7 separate regions of the Homo sapiens genome follow, and all the other regions are reported to be linked to region 1. Evidence: microRNA targets listed by miRTarBase, many of them from high-throughput screens and not tested one by one. Region 1 holds a microRNA gene; each other region holds the end of a gene's coding sequence.
Evidence for each region. The annotated mature microRNA hsa-miR-103a-3p reads AGCAGCAUUGUACAGGGCUAUGA and lies in region 1 at 2,222-2,244, opposite strand. An mRNA with a match to its seed (bases 2 to 7 or 8) in the 3' UTR can be bound and repressed. Matches are read on the target gene's strand: a 7mer-m8 pairs with bases 2 to 8, a 7mer-A1 pairs with bases 2 to 7 and ends in A, and an 8mer does both.

Region 2: the mRNA of HAUS3 is a reported target of hsa-miR-103a-3p. The part of its 3' UTR that is shown has no 7-base or 8-base seed match.
Region 3: miRTarBase lists ZNF680 as a target of hsa-miR-103a-3p. The part of its 3' UTR that is shown has no 7-base or 8-base seed match.
Region 4: miRTarBase lists CFAP45 as a target of hsa-miR-103a-3p. The part of its 3' UTR that is shown has no 7-base or 8-base seed match.
Region 5: the mRNA of CACNA1C is a reported target of hsa-miR-103a-3p. Seed matches in the 3' UTR shown: 7mer-A1 at 799-805.
Region 6: the mRNA of SUN2 is a reported target of hsa-miR-103a-3p. Seed matches in the 3' UTR shown: 8mer at 1,927-1,934.
Region 7: the mRNA of MED13 is a reported target of hsa-miR-103a-3p. The part of its 3' UTR that is shown has no 7-base or 8-base seed match.

The regions. Positions count from the first base shown.
Region 1 is chr5:168,558,683-168,561,792 of GRCh38, forward strand. MIR103A1 (microRNA 103a-1) reads right to left here and starts at 2,291; the gene lies at 2,214-2,291. PANK3 (pantothenate kinase 3) reads right to left here. Exons shown (of 7, transcript NM_024594.4): 5 at 2,711-2,834; 6 at 350-475. It overlaps MIR103B1 (microRNA 103b-1), which reads left to right and starts at 2,222; the gene lies at 2,222-2,283.
Region 2 is chr4:2,229,078-2,232,077 of GRCh38, forward strand. HAUS3 (HAUS augmin like complex subunit 3) reads right to left here. Exons shown (of 6, transcript NM_001303143.2): 6 at 1-3,000. The coding sequence ends at 2,850. POLN (DNA polymerase nu) reads right to left here. Exons shown (of 26, transcript NM_181808.4): 3 at 22-166. The coding sequence starts at 154. Among named protein-coding and RNA genes, the nearest start is that of HAUS3, 12 kb to the right of the region's middle.
Region 3 is chr7:64,518,516-64,521,625 of GRCh38, forward strand. ZNF680 (zinc finger protein 680) reads right to left here. Exons shown (of 4, transcript NM_178558.5): 4 at 1,363-3,110. The coding sequence ends at 2,646. Among named protein-coding and RNA genes, the nearest start is that of ZNF680, 43 kb to the right of the region's middle.
Region 4 is chr1:159,869,803-159,872,912 of GRCh38, forward strand. It overlaps CFAP45 (cilia and flagella associated protein 45), which reads right to left. Exons shown (of 12, transcript NM_012337.3): 12 at 2,562-2,761. The coding sequence ends at 2,683. Among named protein-coding and RNA genes, the nearest start is that of VSIG8, 8.7 kb to the left of the region's middle. RefSeq lists an enhancer at 1-168.
Region 5 is chr12:2,690,589-2,693,698 of GRCh38, reverse strand. CACNA1C (calcium voltage-gated channel subunit alpha1 C) reads right to left here. Exons shown (of 47, transcript NM_000719.7): 47 at 1-2,799. The coding sequence ends at 2,500. CACNA1C-AS1 (CACNA1C antisense RNA 1) reads left to right here and starts at 2,542. Exons shown (of 4, transcript NR_045725.1): 1 at 2,542-2,630; 2 at 2,720-2,892. RefSeq lists a silencer at 1,813-2,082.
Region 6 is chr22:38,733,629-38,736,738 of GRCh38, reverse strand. It overlaps SUN2 (Sad1 and UNC84 domain containing 2), which reads left to right. Exons shown (of 18, transcript NM_015374.3): 18 at 359-2,005. The coding sequence ends at 472. It also overlaps a transcript of GTPBP1 not described here. Among named protein-coding and RNA genes, the nearest start is that of SUN2, 21 kb to the left of the region's middle.
Region 7 is chr17:61,943,933-61,947,042 of GRCh38, forward strand. It overlaps MED13 (mediator complex subunit 13), which reads right to left. Exons shown (of 30, transcript NM_005121.3): 29 at 2,985-3,085; 30 at 1-2,668. The coding sequence ends at 2,536. Among named protein-coding and RNA genes, the nearest start is that of INTS2, 18 kb to the left of the region's middle.

The sequences.
Region 1 (3,110 bases):
ACTGAAACTGAAGCGAAGGAACCAATATTCTACTACTTAAGGCTGGGCATGGTGGCTCACACCTATAAAGGATTGCTTGAGGCCAGGAGTTCCAGACTAGCCTGGGCAACAAAGAGTGATCCTGTCTCCACAAAAAATATTAATAAAAATAAATTTTCTGGGCACAGTGGTGCATACCTGTGGTCCCAGCTACTTGGGAGGCTGAGGTGGGAGGATTGATGAGCCCAGGAGGAAGAGGCTGCAGTAAGCCATCATTGTGCCACTAAACTCAAGCCTGAGTGACAGAGCAAGACCCTGTCTCTTAAAAAACATGCTATTAAAATTCACAAAAAACATTTTCCTACCATACCTCATGTTCTAGAAACAATGCTTTTAGTTGACCTTTTGACCAGTAATCCAGTGCATATGCCAAAAGTTTCATTGAGAGGGTATTGACACGTAAAAAGTTTCCAACAAAGACAACTCTGTTTATTTTCTAAAAGAAAAGAACAAAGAAAAAACTTGTAAAAATAATAGATTTTACAATATAAAAGGTTTCTAAATATTTATTTAAAATTTATTTTAAAATGCAAAAAAACACAACTACGCTTTATTAGTATAACACCTACTACATTCCTGGCATATAGCTGTATAATCCTGAATATTTAAAAATTAGTTCTGCACACATCATCCAAAATCCACAAAATGTGTAACACCAAGAGAGAACCCTAAATTATGGACTTTGGGTGATGATGATGTGTGCACAGGGTTATGGACTGTAACACATGATCACTCTACTATGGGATGCTGAGGATGGAAGTGGGCTGTGTGTGTATGGAAGGTGGTATATGGGAACTCACTGAGCTTTCCACTTAATTTTACGTGAACCTGAAACTGATCTAAAAAATAAAGTCTACTTTTAAAAAAAGGTTCCAGAAAGACTCTAGCAGATGATTTCAGGTGAGATTTGTTTTTGAAAATGGCCAATAAATAGCCCCCTTACAAAGTCATTTGGAGACACATTACTGATGTGATTAAAAAAAAAAATCAAAACATGGTAAGTACTATAAAATGCATTTAGTTGATAAGTAGCAAACTTGGCCCACACATTGCAATGCATGTTGAACAATGACATGCAACTGTGGATTCTACAGAATTGGAGAGTAATACTGACTGGGGTACTGGCATGTGCATTCCCCTAGGATTCTAGCATTCTTTCTCCGTCCCCTGCCTGATTCATCAAATCATTCTCTCTCTGCAAAGATTCCACACTAATTTGGTTTCTTAGATTATCTCTATGATTAGGAAATCTTACAAAGGGGAACTGGTGTTTGAATCACCAGAAAACTTATTTCGACTCTCACACTATACTGACTTTTGAGTAGAAATCTTTGTACATAAGTTGGGATACTGTAAACCATGGCCTAAATTATTGTTAACTCAATTGGTCAGTGGAAATTTAGACATAAAGGGCTAAGAATAAAGGTCTCAAATTGTTGTCAGCTCCCAACATGGTCTACTAGTAACTCCATCAACCAACTAACACTTAAGTTTCTAAGTTATTAAAAAACTGATGAGACCAAGTTCTGGATTTAAATACAGAATAATTCAGAGGATTTGCATATTTGTTCTCTCTGCTGGAAGCTTTCTCCCCAAAATGTCTACATGCACAGTTTCCCCCTCACCTCCTTCAAACCTCTGCCTAAGAATCACATTTTCAATAAAGCTTTCCTTTAACCACTCAATTACTTAGCAATTTGTCCTCTACCACTCTCTGCCCTATTCCCAATCCTCTTTATCCTGTTTGATGGTCTCTTTTTAAAAAAATAGCACTTATCACCTAATACACACTACACAATTTACTTAATATGTCACTAGAATGAATGCAAGCTCCACAAAGCCAGATCTTTGTTTTCTTCATTAATATGTTCCAAATACCCAGAACGATGTCTGGCATCTGGTAATCAGTAAATATTTACTCAATGAATAAATGAATGAATGAACAAATGAAGGGTTCCTTCGAAAAGCGTACTTCCCAATCCATTTAAAGTATTTGATATTTATAAAAATTAAACGGGCAAATATATCTATTATTATATAAGGAAGCTAGAATTAAATATATATATTCTCTTCCAAACAAAGAATCCCAACTATATGGTCAATCTAACAGTATATCCTTTTCACACTTTTCTTGTAACAATAAACACCACTCAAATATCATGAAGAACAGGTCTCAATGCCTTCATAGCCCTGTACAATGCTGCTTGATCCATATGCAACAAGGCAGCACTGTAAAGAAGCCGAGGGCAGTAAGAAAACTTCCAAGAATTTCACTAATCAAATGCAACATTAAGCACTGGTGGTATAGTGGTGAGCATAGCTGCCTTCCAAATGCAAAATTAAGACTAAAAAAAATGCTTTCACAAAGTATCTCAAAATGTCTTATGCTTAGAACTTTCTTTTACATCCTCAAGGGATTTAGGTTGTGTTTTTCTGAAAAAAAATTCTGAATAAATTTCTCCTATTTCAATTTGAATTATCTGCTACTTTCTTTAAAAGTAATATAGCAACTGGATACGTAACATATATACCTAATGAGTCTTGGCATTTAATGGGTTACATCTCAATCCCAGAGGCCTCCTTAGGGAAAGTGAAGAAGCCCTGCTAGGTGTATATAGGACTCCAATTCACATTTTTGATAATTCAAGTTTTGTGTTTTTTGTTTTTTTACCTCATTAACAGCACACATTCGTGCCACAGAACCAATGTTATTGGTGATAGTAACTAAAGTAGCTCTTGCCAGATCTTCTTTACTAACAGATTCTCGCTTCTCCTTATAAATCATATTCCCAAAACTGCAGAAAAATGAAAAATAAAGTCAAATCTGCTGATAAAAAGCAACATTTTACGTATTAACAGATATATCTACAACCTGGATATTTTTATAAAATTAGGACCAAAAAGTAGAAACACATAGGGATAAGATCAAAACAAACTAACAAAAAAAATCTATGCAAGAGTAAAGTAATACCTTTCAAAGAATTAAGGTTAAAATGACATCTCAAAAAAAGCATAGTTAGTTATTATAAGAAAGCAAAGATTACCAAAATATCTTCACTTAAACCTGATTC
Region 2 (3,000 bases), not on the chromosome of region 1:
AGGTTCATAAAAATTACTTACTCTCTGTACTCTTTCCCCAAGTCTTAGAATCCACTAAATCACCTGAATGCATAGCAGACATAATCTTCTGAGCAACACTGGAGAGCGGTGTATTACAGAGATCAAAGCCTACCAATGCCTCATAATTTTCCATTTTCACAAAATCCTAAATGTAAGATTAACATAAGATAAATCCCATATATTAATCCTAAGACTATAAAACAGGAAATACAATTATTTTCAAAAATTTATATACCAACTTTCATTTAAAATGTCTATATTCATAACCACAGAAAATAGGCATCAATCATCCAATAATATAGATAGAAAGAAAAAAGCAAAATAGCTAGAGGCTTAATCCAGGTATCATAGTAAATAGATAACTTATTTTCTAGGTGACCAATTTAGAAGCAATCTACTCAAATACATCCTGAGGTTTGAAAAATGTTATTAAATCTTCAAATAGGCTGAGCGCGGAAGCTCATGCCTGTGATCCCTGCACTTTGGTAGACTGAGGCGGGTGGATCACCTGAGGTCAGGAGTTCGAGACCAACCTGGCCAACATGATGAAACCCCGTCTCTACTAAAAATACAAAAAATTAACCAGGCATGGTGGCACCTGTAATCCCAGCTACTCGGGAGGCCTGAGGCAGGAGAATCACGTGAACCCAGAAGGCAGAGGTTGCAGTGAGCTGAGATCATGCCACTGCACTCCAGCCTGGGCAACAAGAGTGAAACTCCGTCTCAAAAAATAAAAAATAAATAAATAAATAAATAAATCTTCAAATAAACCTACCTAGTAACACAACGATTATAAGTAACTTGGGTAATTACGGCAGACACACAACTACCATCCGTGCCTTGATCTGCCCTGCTGGCCCCCTGGGCTGAGCAAGTCAAGGTTTGGGTGGGGACAGTATAAATCAAGCATCTGGGCAGGGGCATGGTGGCTTACACCTGTAATGCCAGCACTATGGAAGGCCAAGGCGGGTAGATCACTTGAGGTCAGGAGTTTGAGACCAGCCTGACCAACATGGTGAAACCCCGTCTCTACTGAAAATACAAAAATTAGCCAGGTGCAGTGGTGCACGCCTACAATCCCATCTACTCAGGAGGCTGAAGCAGGAGAATCACTTGAACCTGGGAGGCGGAGGTTGCAGTGAGCCGAGATCATTCCACTGAACTCCAGCCTGAGTGACACAGTTAGACTCTGTCTCAAAAATTAACTAATAAATCAAGCGTCTGGCCACACATCTAAATATGTGACACTAATTTAAACAGAATATGCTACCATAAACCAGGAAACCAGGTGACATATTTTCCACATTTTTGGAGAAAATAAAAATTTTAAGTAAATTCTCTATTCCGAAATAGAATAGAAAAAAACATATACAACAAAAAAAAAGTTGCTCAGGTGATAGGGAGCTGATAGCAAAATCTTAAACAAAATTTACTGCTACAAAATTAAGGTTTACATAAAATTTTAAATAACATAAACACAATAATTGGCAAAATATTTTTGTTCAATGGGTTTCAAAAATCAAGAAGGTTCATCTGTCATCTAGGTATGCCTGTTTTCTGATGGTTATAGCTAAAAAATTCCATAAAGACCACCCAAAACATGTAGTTTTTAGATTGGCATTCCATATTACGAACAGGTGAGGAATATTCTTAAAGGTATTCCTACAAAGCTCACATGGTATTTACCACAGGCCATGTATAAATTGGGCACTCAAGAAGCATCTGATGTAATAACAGATGAGCTACTTCAAATTATTTTAGAGCAACGCTTAAAATATTTTCTGGCTGCCCAAATACCATTGTTAAATACAATTAGACATTTTTGCTCTTAAACTGATTAAAATAGTATCATACATCTTTTGAGCAACCACTTTTACAGAATTTTGAAATTCAAATTTCATTTGAAAGTCATTTATGATGTGTAAGTCACATTAAAGTCAAAGCACTGCTCAGCTGTCTTGTAGAAACTTTTGAGTCCCCAGAATTCAGACTCTAAAATGAATGCAGGCAGGCCAAGGAAGTCCTAATACTCTGTGGTACAAGTAGGGACATTAAAACAGCCTAAAGGTCTATAGCAGGGAATTATGGAGGAATACAATTTGAGCAGCAGAATTTTATTTGACAGTCAAACATGAGGGGACTTGGCTATTTCACATATTAAGGTCTACAGATTTAAAAATGCTGACTAGAAGTTCTACACATTTTAAAATATTTAATAGCGGCTGAGCGTGGTGGCTCATGCCTGTAATTCCGGCACTTTGGGAGGCCGGGAGAGGGGATCAAGAGGTCAAGAGATTGAGACCATCCTGGCCAACATGGTGAAACCCCTTTTCTACTAAAATACAAAAAAATTAGCTGGGTGTGGCGGTGTGCGCCTGTAGTCCCAGCTACTTGGGAGGCTGAGGCAGGAGAATCACTTGAACCCGGGAGGCAGAGGTTGCAGTGAGCCAAGATCGTGCCACTGCATTCCAGCCTGGAGACAGAGTGAGACTCTATCTCAAAAAAAAATTTAACGGCAGAAAATTTCTATTTCTAAAAAGGAGAGAGATAACTATATTAAAAAATATTTGCATTATGTAATAATGCTTTTTCCCTGTAAGTAAAAAATTACCAGGACTAAGTACCACTAAACACATGCTCAAGTCATAAAAAGCACTGGTATTCTGAATGTACTACATGAGAAAAAAGACAAATTAATATAATAGTTCAATTCATCAAATTAAATGTTCCATTGACCTCAAATTTTAAAAATTTAGTAGTGTTTATTATACACAGTCTTCTAATAAATAAAAGAGGACACGTAATAAAGATTCAGTTTTCAGTAATTTTCAATCTTCAAGACTAACAGCCTTAATCTTTGATTGAGTTTCTAAATTCTCCACAATATCTTTCAGATAATCTTCATCTTTTAAAAAATATACATAGAATTCTCTTTCCATTTGATGTAATTTATTATTTGCCAAAGTTTTTCTTTTTGTC
Region 3 (3,110 bases), not on the chromosome of region 1:
AATGTAGCTCCCATCAAAATAGCAACATCATTCTTCACAGAATGAGAAAAGACAATCCTAAAGTTTACATAACTTTATACTATAAAGCCATAGTCACAAAAACAGCATGGTACTGATATAAAAATAGGCATATAGACCAATGGAACAGAATAGAGAACCCAGAAATAAAACCAAATACTTACAGCCAACAGATTTTTGACAAAGCAAACAAAAACATGAAGTGGGGAAAGGAAACCCTATTGAACAAATAATGGAGGGATGTTTAGCAAGCCACATGTAGAAGAATAAAACTGGAAACTCATCTCACAACTTATACAAAAATAAACTCAAGATAGACATAAGACATAAATCTAAGACCTAAAACAGTAAAAATTCTAGAAGATAACATTGGAAAAACGTTTCTAGACATTTGCTTAGGCAAAGACTTCATGAATAAGAACCCAAAAGTAAATGCAACGAAAACAAATATAAACAGATGGGGCTTAATTAAACTACAAAGCTTCTGCAGAGCAAAAATAATCAGCAGAGTTAACAGACAACCCACAGAGTGAGATAAAATATTCACAATCTATACATCTGTCAAAGGACTAAGATCCAGAATCTACAAAAAACTCATATAAACCAGCAAGAAATAAAAACAATCTCATTTAAAAGTAGGCTAAGGATATGAATAGACAATTCTCAAAAGAAGATATACGAATGGCCAAGAAACATATGGAAACTTGCTCAACATCTCTAATTATCAGAGTAATGCAAATGAAAATCACAATATGATACCACCTCACTCCTGCAAGAATGGCCATAATTAAAAAATAAAAAAATATAGTGTTGGTGGGGATGTGGTGCAAAGGGAACAATTTTACACTTCTGGTGTGAATGTAAATTAGCACCATTATGAAAAATAGTGTGGAGATTTTTTTAAAGAACTAAAAGTTGATCTATCATTTGATCTAGCAATCCCACTACTGGGTATCTATCCAGAGGAAAAAAAGGCATTATATGAAAAAAGATACTTGCACACACGTTTATAGTCTATGTGCCTATTTGTATACCAGCACCATGCTGTTTCGATGACTAAAGCTTTATAGTATAGTTTAAAGTCAGGTAATGTGATGCCTCCAGATTTGTTCTTTTCTCTTACTCTTGCTTTTGCTATGTGGAATCTAAAAGAAAATTTTATTATTTTTGATCACATCAGTTAATCTGGAGGACAGCATATTAGTTGAAATAAGCCAGGCACAGAAAGATTAACATCTCATGACCAAATAACATATTGTTACTCTCTTTTACCTCCCTCCTTGAGTAAAGTGAAAAAGGTTAAAGTTAATGGCATAATAACGCTTCATTGAATGCACAATAGTCTTAACATGTTAAAGAAATGTTTAATTATAAAATTAAGCTTATACATAATCTAAAAATTTTCAAATGTACTGCATTTATAGCATAAAAGTACAATTAGTAAAATGATTCACTAGTAATTTAATTACATTTAATTTAAAGTAAAATTAAAAATGCTTTTCTCTATGATGCAGAATATTACTCCAAACACCTACCTCATGCATCACTCAATATGAAAAGTAAACTAACAGGGCCTCTCCACTTAGATTTTCATCATAAACCTTACATTTTAATGCCCATACTCTTCCACAGAAAAAACCATAAATAATGCCCATCTAATAAAAAAGAATCTCTCCTATATCTGACACAGCAACAATTTATCACATGCTTTCACATGTGAATACAATAGGAATGAAATAAAGTAATTTGAGAGTTGAATTTCATCATTATTTACTTTTCAAATAAGCCATAATTTTTTCAAGAAAAAAAGTATACTTTCAATGTAATTATAACTCTCCAAAGAATCTTCTACTCCTTTTAAAGTTATTTACAAATAATCTAACAACTTATAGATTTTTTTATACTCAACACTCTGTTTTAGTGTAATGTCTAAAGTGTCAGTGCCTTAGTTATTTCTACTGTAAATTATTTAATATTTACATAGACTCAATTTTGGATTAAATATTTTTCATACTTACTGCATCTGCAAAAACACATTTCAATATAAATTCATGTTTTCTACGCCGTAGTTTTTGAAAAAAAATGTTTTTCCAAATTCATTACATTTGCAGGATTTTTCTCCAATATAAATTCCCTGATGTTGAACAAAGTTTGAGCAACTGCTTCAGTGTTTTTCTCTAGTACAAAATGCGTACAATAAGATTTGTAATACAAGTAAAGGTACTACAACCCTCCTATGCTCCTTATATTTGTTATGTTTGTCTTCAAAATAAACACGCTTCTTCACTTTAAAGTGTTATGTTTTCTGAAATTTCTTTTGACAGTAATTGCATTTATAATGCTTTTAATAAGTATAAACTCTGGTGTTGAGTAAGATGTGAAAAGATATCAATGACTTTTTCACATTCTTTATACTTGTACAATCTTTCTCAAGTAAAAATGCTTTCCTGTGCAATAAGATGTGAGTATTGGTTAAGTTTTGTCACATTCTTTACACTTATAAAGTTTTCTCCAATATAAATTATCTTACCTACAAGCAAGTGTAACAATCATTGGAAGGCTTTGTCAAATTCTTCACATTTTTAGGGTTTCTCAACAGGATGGTGTCTTTTATGTTTAGAAAAGTTTTAGGTGTTATCAAAATTATTGTCACATTTTTCAGGTTTGTAGAGTTTCTCACCAGTATGAATTTTCTTATGTCTAGTAAGGTGTGAGGACCGGTTAAAAGCTTTGCCACATTCTTCACATTTGTAGGGTTTCTCTCTAGCATGAATTCTCTTATGATTAGCAAGAGTTGCAGGCCAGTTAAAAACATTGCCACATTCATCACATTTGTAGGATTTCTCTCCAGTATGAATTACTTTATGGTTAGTAAGGGTTGAAAATAAAGTAAAGCCTTTGCCACATTCTTCACATTTGTAGGTATTCTCTCTAGTGTGAATTCTCTTATGTCGAGTAAGGCTGGAGCACCCATTAAAAGCTTTGCCACATTCTTCACATTTGTAGGGTTTCTCTCCAGTATGAATTCTCATATGTTCAGTAAGGTTTGAGGACTGTATAAAAGCTTTGCCGCATTCTTCACATTTGTAGGA
Region 4 (3,110 bases), not on the chromosome of region 1:
CTTACAGCCTCTCACACAGCCCTGTGTTGATTCAGTGGCTTAGAGGAGTACACAGAGCTCACCATCTCCACCTTTGAGCATGAGAAGGGGAAAGCTTAAACCTCCTCAGCAGAAAGCACCTCCACTAAAGGTCCAACCTCTAGCAGCAAGACTGAGCCTAGGAACCCACTGGAGTCCTCAGAAGAATGCCCATTTTCTCTTTGTCTCCAGGCCCTAGCCTTACTCTGCAGGCTCAGCTCACACAGTGTCCTGCTGAGTCTGCCACTACTATCATGCAGCCTAACCCCACCAGTCCCCACTTAACACTGGGAGATTTCTCTGTAATTATCCCCACTGCCATTTCTGAGTGAGATTGGTAGAGGGTTTATAAAAGATTGCTGAGATGTAGTTGACTGGCCTCAGATCCCAACTACCTGCCTGGCTCTCAAGAGTGTCAGGCATCTTAGAACTAGATTCTTACTGGTTCAGACTAGTTCTGGAGCCCATGAAAGCCTGGGTGTGACTTCTTAGGAATCCCAAGAGAAGAAATTGAAACTCTGTTCTACTTCATGGGCCAATTCCAAGATGGAGAACTCCTGATGAGAGTAAAAGGGTCAACCCTGAGGCAGAGCCCTGAGATTCTCTCCCAAACCATCTTCACTTGCTCAGAAGTGGCTATATTCTCTCTTCTCCAAAGCCAGACCTTTATTCACGTAACCTATAACTGCCCCTGTGTCCAGGCCCAGTCGACAGTCTCACTCACTTTTAGTAAGGCTTTGGGATCTTCCCGGACCCAAAGACCTACATTTTCACCAGCAGCAGCTCTGGTCAAATGCTGGCCTTACTGTCAACCTGTGATGTTGGCCCATTTTTGTCTAAGTGGGCTCAGAAGTTAGCAGTGGGTGTGGAACCCCCTTTCTCCTCAATCCTTTCTCCATAGTGGCCCATTTTTTCCAGCCCTGAGATGGAAGACTTAGGTGTGAGCCTAGGCAAACTCTTAAGCACCCAGGCTCTTTCTAGCTTTCCTGGGAAAGAGTGTCTCCTGAACTAGGCAAAGCCTTGTTCCCTGGTCCCTGCAGGCATCAGCTAAGCAACAGGTGATGCTCAGAGAGAACCTTTGCCAGTGCCCCAACTGCAGATGAGTCCCAGAATCCTCAGCGGCATTGCCATGTCTTCTCTCCCATCCGAGGCTGGGTACCACATCTTCCCAAGACCCCTAGGGAGGAAGGCATCAGCTTCCCTAGGAAGGAGGGTTGCAGTTAAAGGTGCTGAGCAGGGACGGTGAGAAAGCCTCTTTCCCAAACAGTTGGTCGGGCGGGGCAACAATCTTTCCTGGTGGAAAAGGTGGAGAAGGCACCTGGGGAAGCTGTGGCTGTCCTGAGGAAAAGGAAGCACAGGAAACAGCTTACTGACTCTCCCTGGGCCCTATGAAAAGAGGACTCTTGCCTGAGGCCCTTGTAACCTGGAGTTGTAAACATCCAGGATGCACCCAACAGATTCCTCACCTCCTCTAGTGCAGGGCCCATCAGGGAAGGCAAGACTGGGCTCTGGATTTGAGAGATGAATCCATCCCCAGGGGTAGAGAGGGACCTCAATGTCACAGCAGCTGGAGGAAAGCCCTTTCCCCTAGGCATACAAAAACAGGGTACATGGCTCCATCCCTAGAAGCTAGCAGTCCAGCCCCAAAGGGGCACCTGACAACCAGGTGAGAGGCCAAAAAGGCAGAGATGATTCCAAAGGTACAAGAAATTTGGTGGGAGCAGCTCAGGGGAGAAAACAGGAGCAGACCGGCATAAATGAGCAGCTTCTGAGTGGGCAGCAAGGTCTGTTGTGCTCAGTGAGTGCCTGAAATGTACCTGGCATGTGGTAGGCACTCAGTCAGTATCTGAATAAGTGAATGAATGATTAAAGTATAGTTTGGGGCAAAGTGAGACAAGTTAAAAACAGACGAAAATGGTTTGGGAGCCCCACCTATGGGAGTGAGGTGGACTGAGGAGAGCCCAGCCACAGGAGGGGCTGAGTTCGGGTGAGGGGACTGGACTGGCAGGGTGGGGAGTGCAGGGCTCTTGGTGTGCCCTAGTGGGGCATGGGCCTGTGTCTGTGTTGCAGCATTGCCTGGAATTGAAAGGGTTCTGGTGGGAGAGAGCTGAGACAGGCAGAGTGAGCCCCAGGTTCAAACTTCACTCCCTCCACAGATGTGATCTGAGTCATGGGTGTGATCCCAGTAAGAGCCTTGCCTCACCTGGCCCTGGTGCCTCCTTCACCAGCTCCGCCTGGCCAAGCCTTGCCCCAGCCCCCACTGAGAGGCAACTGTAGCTCTGCCTCAATGCCCTGAAATGCTTCTGAACTGGGCGTCAGGGTGGAGCTGAGACAAGATTGTGATCCCAGGGAATCACAAAAAGGCCAGGAGACACCAGGACAAAGGGACCTCCTGGCTTAGGAGAAACCATCATAAAAGAGCATCTTCCCATTCCCTTACCCTCAGCCCCACACCACCCACACTCGGGTTCCCCCCATCCTATTTTACTCCACCTTCAGTACCCTGTAGCAGCCACATTCCCACAAGAAAGCCAAGCTGTTCCTTAAAGTCAAGTAGATTTAATCTGTAACTATGAAATGTCTAGGTTAGCAGCAATTATGGATGCCCAGAGACTGGGCAGAATCTGTCCCCCGAAGGCATCCTGAGGGCCACGAAGGCTCCCCTCAGTTCACAGAGGTAGCTGGCAGGATGTTAGCTTTGCGCTCAGCTTCAATGCAGTACTTCTCGGGAAGGCCAGTGGCTCTGCCGGGGAAACGCAGGCAGGTATAAGGAAAGGTATTGGACCAGACAGGAGGTGGGAGGAAGCAGGCTCTGGGTGGGGTTTACAGAACCTGGGGGCCTGCACCCCCCAACCCTGCTCTCACAATCCACCCCCGAAACACACATTCATGCCAAGGCTCCAGCATCCTGCCAAGGAGCTCCCAGAGAGCCAGCAAGACCCCATCCCAGGACTTTCTGCTGGAGCCCCCTTCAGAGGGATGAGCCCTGGGTGGGGAGAAGAGCCTCTCCCTGAGCATCTCTGCCATGGCCCTTCACCCCCAAATCCCCATGCTTTCCAGCCTGTGGTGCCATCTCTTTGCGGGAGGGAAGA
Region 5 (3,110 bases), not on the chromosome of region 1:
ATAAGTGAGCATTAGAGATGCCCCCACAAAAATCTGTTCCCACCCCCACTGTGAGCTCCGGATGCCTCTTCCCTTGTCCTGGCCCCCTCCCCGGCAGCCCAAACATTAGGGCAAGCCTGAAGGAAAGGCTGCTCCAGAGTGAGGAAGGGATGGAGAAAGGAGCACGCAGAGTTGACTTTCAGATGGATCAGGGTTTCACCAGTTCCTTTCTCGAGCCCCTGCTGTCCTTGTTGGGTAGAGCAACAAGAATCCGGAAGTGAGGATGCCCCTCCCTCCAAGCAGCCTGACTTTAATTTTATCCTCCCGGTTAGTGTACACTTTCCTAAGGAAGCCAAAGAGAAAATTCCGTGTGGTGGAAGGGAAGGGAAAGCCAGCTACCTCTTCCATGGGGGATGCGGATGACGGCCCAGTGACTGAGGGCTCATCAGAACGCCTCCCTGCACCTCACAGTGAAGGGCTGTTCTTGGAGAAGTACCAAATCAGATGACCAGAGCAGAGTGGACAGAGTGAAGACTGGAATAAAATAGGTCCTGGTCTCTCACAGCAAGAGGCGGTACAAACATACCCAGCAAACGATTTTGGAAAAATTGAGGGAAATGTAAGCAAACACAAGATATGCAAAACAGTAATGTCCAAACCTGTTTGTGGAGAGCAGAATAATGACTACACTGGTGATACCTTTGCTCATTGTGCAAACTAAAGAAAACTTGTTCCCTTTCCCCCAACCACATATAGAAAAGCACTTGAGTTCAAAGGTAAAGCTTGTCACACTCCAAATACAAAATGATTTACTTTACATGCAGCAAAATATACAAGAAGTGAATCCGAAAACCAACTTAATTCAATTCATTATATTCGCTTGGCACAATTGCAATTCAGTTTTAAAAAAATATTTGAAAAATACTGAAACTGACCTGAATTCAAGTATAACGGTTTCTTCAACAGAAACATTATCAATGCAATAAAACATTACACGGAATATATTGAAGCAAAATGCCTTCTTGTGTTTTTCCCTTAAATTTCTGTCTTTTTTTAAAATACAGTTTTAATGCCAACACAACTCACAATTGTATTTTTAAATGAATATTATTGCATTGTTTTTGCATATCTTGTGGGACAGAAAATGCAAAGAGTTACTGATTCCCGTTTCAGAAGCAGAGACAGTGGTTTGTTTTTGCTTTCAAACGGCCCCAGATTCAGATCTTCCCACAGCTAAACCAGAAAGGGGGGACTGCGTAGTCACTGGTGTGCACGGGCACATGGTGTGGGTGCATATACACGGGCAGGACATATGCACACAGACAACCCACCACACACACACGCGTCGCACACACTCGGAGACTCTCTCGCGCATGCTCCTCTCTCCCAAACCCACCTGTACACCCAGCATAAAAAGGAACCCAACTCTATCACCCACATGTGCAAGACCACATCAAGTGCATTGCCAGTTACCTTTCCATTAGATAACCGAACCAAACCAGAACAAAAATAGGTTACTACCTAAGGAAATGATAACAAATTATTGGGCATACACAATGGTTGGTAAAACTCTCCTGCAGCGGCTTCTATTGAACCTCCGTGGAAAAAGGAAACCACAACCGTTTAAATAATACAAGAAAACCAAACCCGATGTACATTGGCAAAAGTGAAAACAGAAAGGTGAGGGGGCTACAGGACTTTGTAAACACTCTTCTTCCTCCCCTCCCGCTGGGAAAGCAAAATAAAACATTTAAAAAAAACCAAAACCGAAAAGAAACTGCAACATGCTGTCAAGAAAAGTGTCAAACCACAAAACAAAAGAGCGCTCAGCGGAAGCTCAGCACCACCTGGTTGGGCGGAGCCGGCGGCGCAGCTCCTCCCTCGCGCTGCCTGCGGGCCGGCGGCTGGCCGGGAGCTCGGCGTGGCCCGTGCCGGTCGGGGGATCCCGTCGCAGGTGGGCAGGGACGGAGTGAGCCGCACCACTGCCGGCCCGACGCCCATCCCCAGAGCTCCGCGCCCCTGGAGGCCTCCTCCTCCCTCTCCGGGCCGGGTTGGGGTCCTCCTGGAAGTCCTGCCCCGCTCCCTTCTCCAAATCCGCAGGGCCCTGGCTCTAGGGAGACAGCGAGGCTCGTACAGAATATGTGCAAATGGTTTCTACAAGCAGAGTCGAAAGACACCCGTTTGCTGTAGGGTCCTTTTGGTGAGGGCGCGCGGGAAGCCGGGGTGCTCTCCCCGCGGAGGCGCGGCCGGGCCCGGGGCCTGCGAGCTGGGAGAGGGCAGGCGCCTTCCTCGCGCCCCGGGACCCTCGCCGCCTCCTCTCCCCGCCTCTGCAGACGCAGCCGGGCGCCTTCCTCCCGGAGGGCGGCTCGCGCACCCAGGCTCCGCGTCTGGTCCCAACAGAAATGAATGAAGACGCTGTTCCGGTTAACTCCAGGTCACGAGAACAGTGAGGCACTTCTGAAACGAACCCATTAGGAACATTGAAACAAATAAAAAAAAGCCCGCATCTGGCAGCGCCCACTACAGGCTGCTGACGTAGACCCTGCTGTCCTGGAGCTCCTCCTCACTCGGTCGACCCCGCGCGCGCACACAGCCCGCGTCCTCTTCGCCCCCGGCTCGGTCCTGCCCCGCGTCCCTGCAGTTCACAAAGGGTAAGAGGGCGCCATTGGGGCTCTGTGGGGCGCCCCCGCTGAGGATGTTGTCGGCCGCGCTCTCCATCTCCTCTATGGTCATGTCGCAGGCGTCGGCCAGCTCCTGGGTGGTGACCTCGATGAACTTGGGATCTTGAGCAAACTGCCCCAGTCCTTCTGAAATCAAGACCTGAAGGAGCGGGGTGGGAGCCATGAAGAACCAAAGGAACATTACTCCTGGAGCCCAGCTCTTCCCTTGAGGGCTAGAGCGAGGGGGTATCTGGTAGGTCACTTGGGGAAGTGTGCGTGTGTGCACGTGTACGTGTGTGTGTTGGGAGGGGCACCCATGGGGAACAAGTGGAGATGGAGCATCTGCCAGAATTAGGGATGTGCAGGCCAGAGAAGTTTTGGCTGGGGTGGTCAAACACTGTCATCAAATATATGAAGACTTGCTTATGGCCCAGCACGGTGGCTCACACCTGTCACCCAGCACTTTGGGAA
Region 6 (3,110 bases), not on the chromosome of region 1:
GCTAGACAGAGGCCCGATGGGCACTGGAGAAAAAGAATCAAGTGTGCCCCACATCAGCATCTATGAAGCCCTCTATGAAGGTGGTTCTATCTGTTGATCACAATAAAAAAACGATTGTGGATGAATTCATTCCGGTTTCAGATGAAGTGTGCTACAGGTGGCCCCTTAACCCACTGGCTGGAAACACTGCTCAGGAGGCTAAAGATAGGAGCTTTTGAAGCCTGGTTCTCTTCAGAGCCCCAGGGAAGGAGCAGGGGAGCCATCTGGCCCTAGGCGAGGCTGTCTCCCCTTCCCACCTTCTCTGTCAGTGAGGCCTCACAGGTCTCTGATGCTCTTAATCCCTTTCTTCTCTACCCAGGCCCCTACGATGGCCACGTACCAGGTGGTGGAGCTGCGGATCCTGACTAACTGGGGCCACCCCGAGTACACCTGCATCTACCGCTTCAGAGTGCATGGGGAGCCCGCCCACTAGCCCTGCTTACTGGTGCCTGCTGCCAGCCATCTGGGAGTGGGTGAACAGCACCCCGCCGCTTCCCCCACACGCTTGCTCGGCGCTCTGACTTCTAGGAGCACAAGAGAGGAGCCTGTGGCCCCATGCAGATGAAAAGGACGGGCAGGGTCTCCTGAGCAGCAGGTGGCTCGAGGCGGTTAGCAGGCTCCAGCAGCTCCCTTCTTCCTTCCCTCTGTGCCCGTGGCGTCTGCTTCCCATCCTGGGAGTGTGTATATATGTAGCATATCATGGGGGACTGGGAAGTTGGGAGAGGTAGGACCTGACTGGTCTTGGCTGGGGTCAGGGGCTGGTGCCTGGGAGCTGATGAAGCAGGTGCCAGGGCTGTGGGAGGGGCAAGCTACGGCCTGGGCTAGGTGAGCTGCCTCTGCCCCTGGGCAAGGAAGCGAGGCCCTCTGGGAGGAGGGTGCTTAGCTCCAGAGCAGGATGGGACTTCCCCAGGCAGGAAGCACTTGATGGAGAGCTGCCCAGCTCTCCTACAAGGTTAGTGCCCTCCACCTAGGGAAGCATGAACCACAGGGTCCCTGAGGGCCTTCGACAAAAGTGTGTATTTGTCCCGGGGAGGGTAGCAGTGGGCCATGGGGCTTCTTGTGCCCTAAAGGGGACTGGCTGCTGTGATCTTCTAAGGGGCCCAGGGCCAACCCTGTAGGCTTCCCCTCTGCTGGGGACGGTAGTTGCTTTTCTCTCTCCTGATGCTAGGTTGGGGCCCACCCTGCTCCCTGTTCCTGCTAGGGCCTGCCAGTGCCCCTGAGCTTGCTTTCCACATTCTCCCAGGGTATGGAGACCTAGACCTGTCTTTGGGGCCATTAGCATCTGGGGTTATAGCAAGAAGAGTGGGGAGCATGGAACTCCTGGGCTCTTGTGGGGACGTTCAGGGTATCGGGGTGCGAGGTCTGTCTGCACCGGCCCCCACATCTAACCAGGCCCTGATGTAGGGGTCGTCCGCTCAGGCTGCCCCCTTGGGCTCTTGCAGCTCTTGTTCAGGTAGTCGCCCTTCTGGTTTGTTCTCTGTGGGGCAGTTGGTGGGGGCTGGGGGAAGAGGCTGGCAGAAGTTACCCTGGATAGGGAAGGGGGAGGAGGGGACTTTTAGAGCCAGCAGGCCCCACTGTATTATGTATATATTTTTCAAGGTCTGTTTTTCTAACTGAAAAGCTAAGGGCTTGATTCCTAGCCCCGTTCTGTGGGGCACTGGGTGATACTCAGTTTCTTGTTCCTGGCCGTGGAGAGGGGCCTGGGGCACTGGTTCCGGCTGTGTCTGGTGGTCTGGCTGCGGGGAAGGGGCAAGAAGGCGGGCAGGCCTTCACTGCAGCACTGAGCCTCAAATCCGCTCTGGAGCATGAGGCTGGATGCAGTGGTGGTGAGGCCGCCCCGCTCCATCCCGAGGCAGCCAGGGTTTGTTTTGCGCTCTCCTGTCACAAATGCTGCACTATTGGTTCTTAAGTTTTTTATCTCCAGATCCTAATTTATGCCTATGCAAAAAATAAATGACGCCCAAGAGCTGTGGGATGTGGCTTTCATGTGGCTTTTGCCTATCACCTAGGGCAGCTGCTCTTGGGCAGATGAGGGAATGAATTCTTGGCCAAACGAATGTCCCCAAAGACTTATTCCTGAAGTTCAGAAACCCACAACTTTCAGCTAAAGCCCAGTTGTGGTGGGGGATGGGACCTGAGGCAGGTCTCCTCCAGTGTTTGTGGGTCAAGGGCTGGCATGAGGAAGCAGTGAGGTGGCTTTATTAGCTGTCATTGATAACCCATCACAAAGGGTGGGGCGGGAGCAGTGGGGCTTTCCTGTCTCTCAGTACCACTGAACAGCAGCAGAAAAAGTTACACTTACCTACCAGCCACGTCCACTTGGAGTGCAGTGATTCTCCTCCATGGGAATTCGCTATTTGCCCCTTGGACCTGTGACTGGGAAGGGACAAGGAGGTAGGTCCCTTGAACAGCCAGCAGCTTAGGAGAAAAACAGGCCCTGACCTTTCCCACAGATAGCTCCCCAGACCTGGTTCGCGTGGTTCTCTAGCCTGATCCTGGAGCCTCTCATACTGACCGTGGCACCTGGCCCAGGGCTGCTCCTCATCATGGCTGAGAAAACAAAGGCAGAAAGCCAGTCAGTAGGGAGGACTGTGGAGACAGCCACAAGGCAGGAGCTGGGTGAGGCACAAATCCAGCCCCCAAAGCCTTGGGCCAGCTCCTCAGCCTCTTGGGAGACAGCTGGTCCTGTGCTCACTCCCCTTCACTGACACCTGCTCTGCCTCTGACGCCATCTAAACAAAGGAGACATCCCCACGCAGCACCAATAAACAAGCCCCTGGAAGTTGCCACACACTGTGGCAAGAGTCCAGAGCCTGGGCTGGGCACATGCCCTCTGCCCATCTGTACATTCAAATCCTACTGGGCCCTCACAGCACAGCCCTCACACTGCCGGCTCCATGGTACTTCCCCCAACCCAACTAAACCTGTGCTGCCCCTGTGCGTGGCATATTCATCCCTGTGACCTTCTCTGTGCCAGGGTGGCTGATAAGCCAGAACAGTCCTGACTGTGGAGTCAGGGGTCTGGCCATCCCCATCCCACCATCACAGGCCTTACTCCTGGGAAAGACGCC
Region 7 (3,110 bases), not on the chromosome of region 1:
AAACAAAACTACCCATATTTGTCTGTGACAGTACATTAGTAAGTCAAATCCATCATCCTGCACAAGGCTTAATTTCTCAAATAAGTCTACTGAGCTTTTCTAATGGTTATTTAATAACTTTCCATTGAGTTTGAATGGATATATGAAGGGAAGAAAAAAAATCTTATCAATAAATCCTGTATATTTGGGAACTATTCCCTGATTCCCAAATAAAAAATAATTGTGTACTGGGTTCCCTCCTTATGGCTCCATATTAAATAACCTGTCAGGGAATAATTTTAAATCTACTTTCAAATTGAGGTGTGGTTATCATAGGTTAGTGATTTTAAACAACTGAGAATATAACTTTTATTTTGTAAAGTCACTATTAAGTGTATAAAAAGGATACTCTTTTTATGGAAATTCCAAATAAGCACATTTTCCTTCAAATCTCAGACAAGTTTTTTTTTTTTTTTTAAAGAAAGTACAGAACAAAACATACCAACATAATGTGTGGTGTATTAGCATAATTTAAAAACAAATGCAGAGAGGTGATCTTTAAATTTAATATCAAAATATGCTGACCATTAGAACTGCATTATAATTTTGAAGAAATGATTGACAACCTTTGTCACCAATTGTGTTTGCTTCATAGAAAAAACAAGACTTGCTAATGTTTTCATATACACAATCTGAAGAAGTTATGTTGTTCATAAGAAAGTGATATTTAATTCTAAGCACAGAGTATTCACAAAAACAAGTTTCAGTAAAAAAAAAAACTAAAACAAACACTGAAGTAGAGTTTTGTAAATACAACTGATTTTGTCCTTGTAGATAATTAGTGAACGTACAAATAGAAATTTTGCTAGACTGCTTCCAAGAAAGCTAGGTAGACTCGGCGACTGTGAATTCAAGTCAGCAATGCAGGTAGGAGGCGAACTTGGGCTCTTTTGTGAGCAGCACTGTAGAAAGGATTTTTCAAGGGGGTACAGCCTGCATAAAAGCAGTTATCTTGGCATGTGCAAACAAGAAGGGGGAAAGTTGTATTGAAGGAGGGGTGAATTAAAGTCCCTAAAATTCAAGTCCCTTCTTTAGGGAGGTGAGAACCTCCTTGGCATATGCCCTACCTTAATCTGAGCTGTGTTATAGAAAAGTACAGACTCTGGTGTTTGGGACTGACATCTCCAAACCAAGAAAATTAAATAAATAAAAAAGGCAAGGGAAGTTTAAAAAATGGTTCTTTCACTAGTGGAATAGAGTCTGAATACCAGAATTCACTGAGAATCTATTTACACCACAGTTTGATTGCGCGCACACACACACACCCATACATATGCATACTCTCACATACATTCCCAATCTTTAATTTAAAAAAAAAAGTCAAACAATCAAGAATGACTGCTTGAAAAATAATTTGTAAAATGCCTAGAGCTGGGCTAAATTTCAACCTTATAGCAGATCCTGAAAATAAATTTCATAATAATATTTCCATGCCTAAATATGCCACTGTTAAAACTGAAAAAAATTTAAGCATGTAACATTAAACACTAAAATTAGTTTAAGCATTCAGTAGCAAATGGTTTTTCTTGTAAAACTAAGTTTCTTTCACCGGAAATGGCCTGAAATATTAGTCATAGCCCTAAACCATAGTACAAAATATAACTGAAGAATTCTCATTTTATTCTAAGTTAAACCACCTAACAATACCACTTGTATATTGCCATCATGTTATTCTGTAAAGATGTGATATATAAAATGCTGTAAGACCTGGTACCTTTTCAATTTATAAACACAGTGAACTTCATTACTGTACATGTACTCTGCAACTACAGCTTAGCTGTAAATCCTCCACACACAATGGTATGGACATTATTCCCCCTCTATCCCCGTTAAACTGTACATCGAGACAATACAAATTTACTGTCCCACCCACCCCCTTACAAAAAAATAATACTCTAAAAGCAACCCTACTGCAACTTTTTAATTAAGACGATTACATATATTTTAGACCAATTGCTTTAAAGCAAGAAGGCAGTATAAACCTTCTAGGAAAATTTTTATAAAAGAGGTTAAGAAATATAAGACAATTTATACATTTAAAAACTTACAATAAATAAGAGAAGAGATGCAGGCATTTTTGAATACTAGATACTATAATCCATACAAGAACATCTTCATGTTCTGAAGCCATATGTTGAAATTCATTGTTCCTCATGTTTCCTCTCCATGCTTTTAATATTCATTTAACATGACTGGGTACTATGGCTCATTACTTTTCACAAATACTGTGACTGGAAAAAAAAAAGGTTAATTTTGCTACGAAAATGTTATAATACGTTTTGTATGATCAGTCATCATCCTAAAGAGTTCAATAGAGTCAATGAAAAATAGCAGGGTTATAGCCCCTCCCCCCAAGTCAAAACAATATTTGTTGAAGTAATAAGAATTAGACCCCATCACAAATGACCTTCACTGAGAAGATAATTGTAACTTAATCCTGCAGCGAAACATCCATTTTTCCTTGTTCTTTTCTTGCACAGTTCCATCAAATGAAGATCACAGCATATTCATAATAAAGTTATATAACTGATTCAGCACCACAAAATGAATTGGGAGACATGAGCGTCTGTCCTGGGTTGCAGGGTCACAGGTTAGCCAGGAGAGTGCATTGTACTGTTCCAAAACAAACCTGAAAAGCAAATAAACTGCATAAGTCATTTATTTATTTCCAACCTAGATTTTGGAAGCAGTTTTCAATTATGGCATTTAAGACTCAAAGTCACCTTAAAAAAGAGTGTAACAGAGAGTCCTTGAGGGGAAAGAAGCAATTTCCATAAAAATTATTCTCAAAAGTAGATTACTCAAGTTAGAATAGCAGTGTTTATCTAGAGATCCACTGGTACACAACTGTAAATTCTTGCCAAAAATGAGAAAAATATATAAGAATCAACATTATATTCTTTTAAAGTTGCAGTGACAAACTGTTAATGGTAAAAGAGTTGTACCTGAGGACATCTGAAGTCTGATTTGAGTCAAGTGGGTGGGAGTGTTTACTGTGAAGCAGCTCGTCAGATTGCACTGAAGGCACGTGGAGGTGCAAAGAGGCCTAAGAAGGTAACAGGTAATCAATC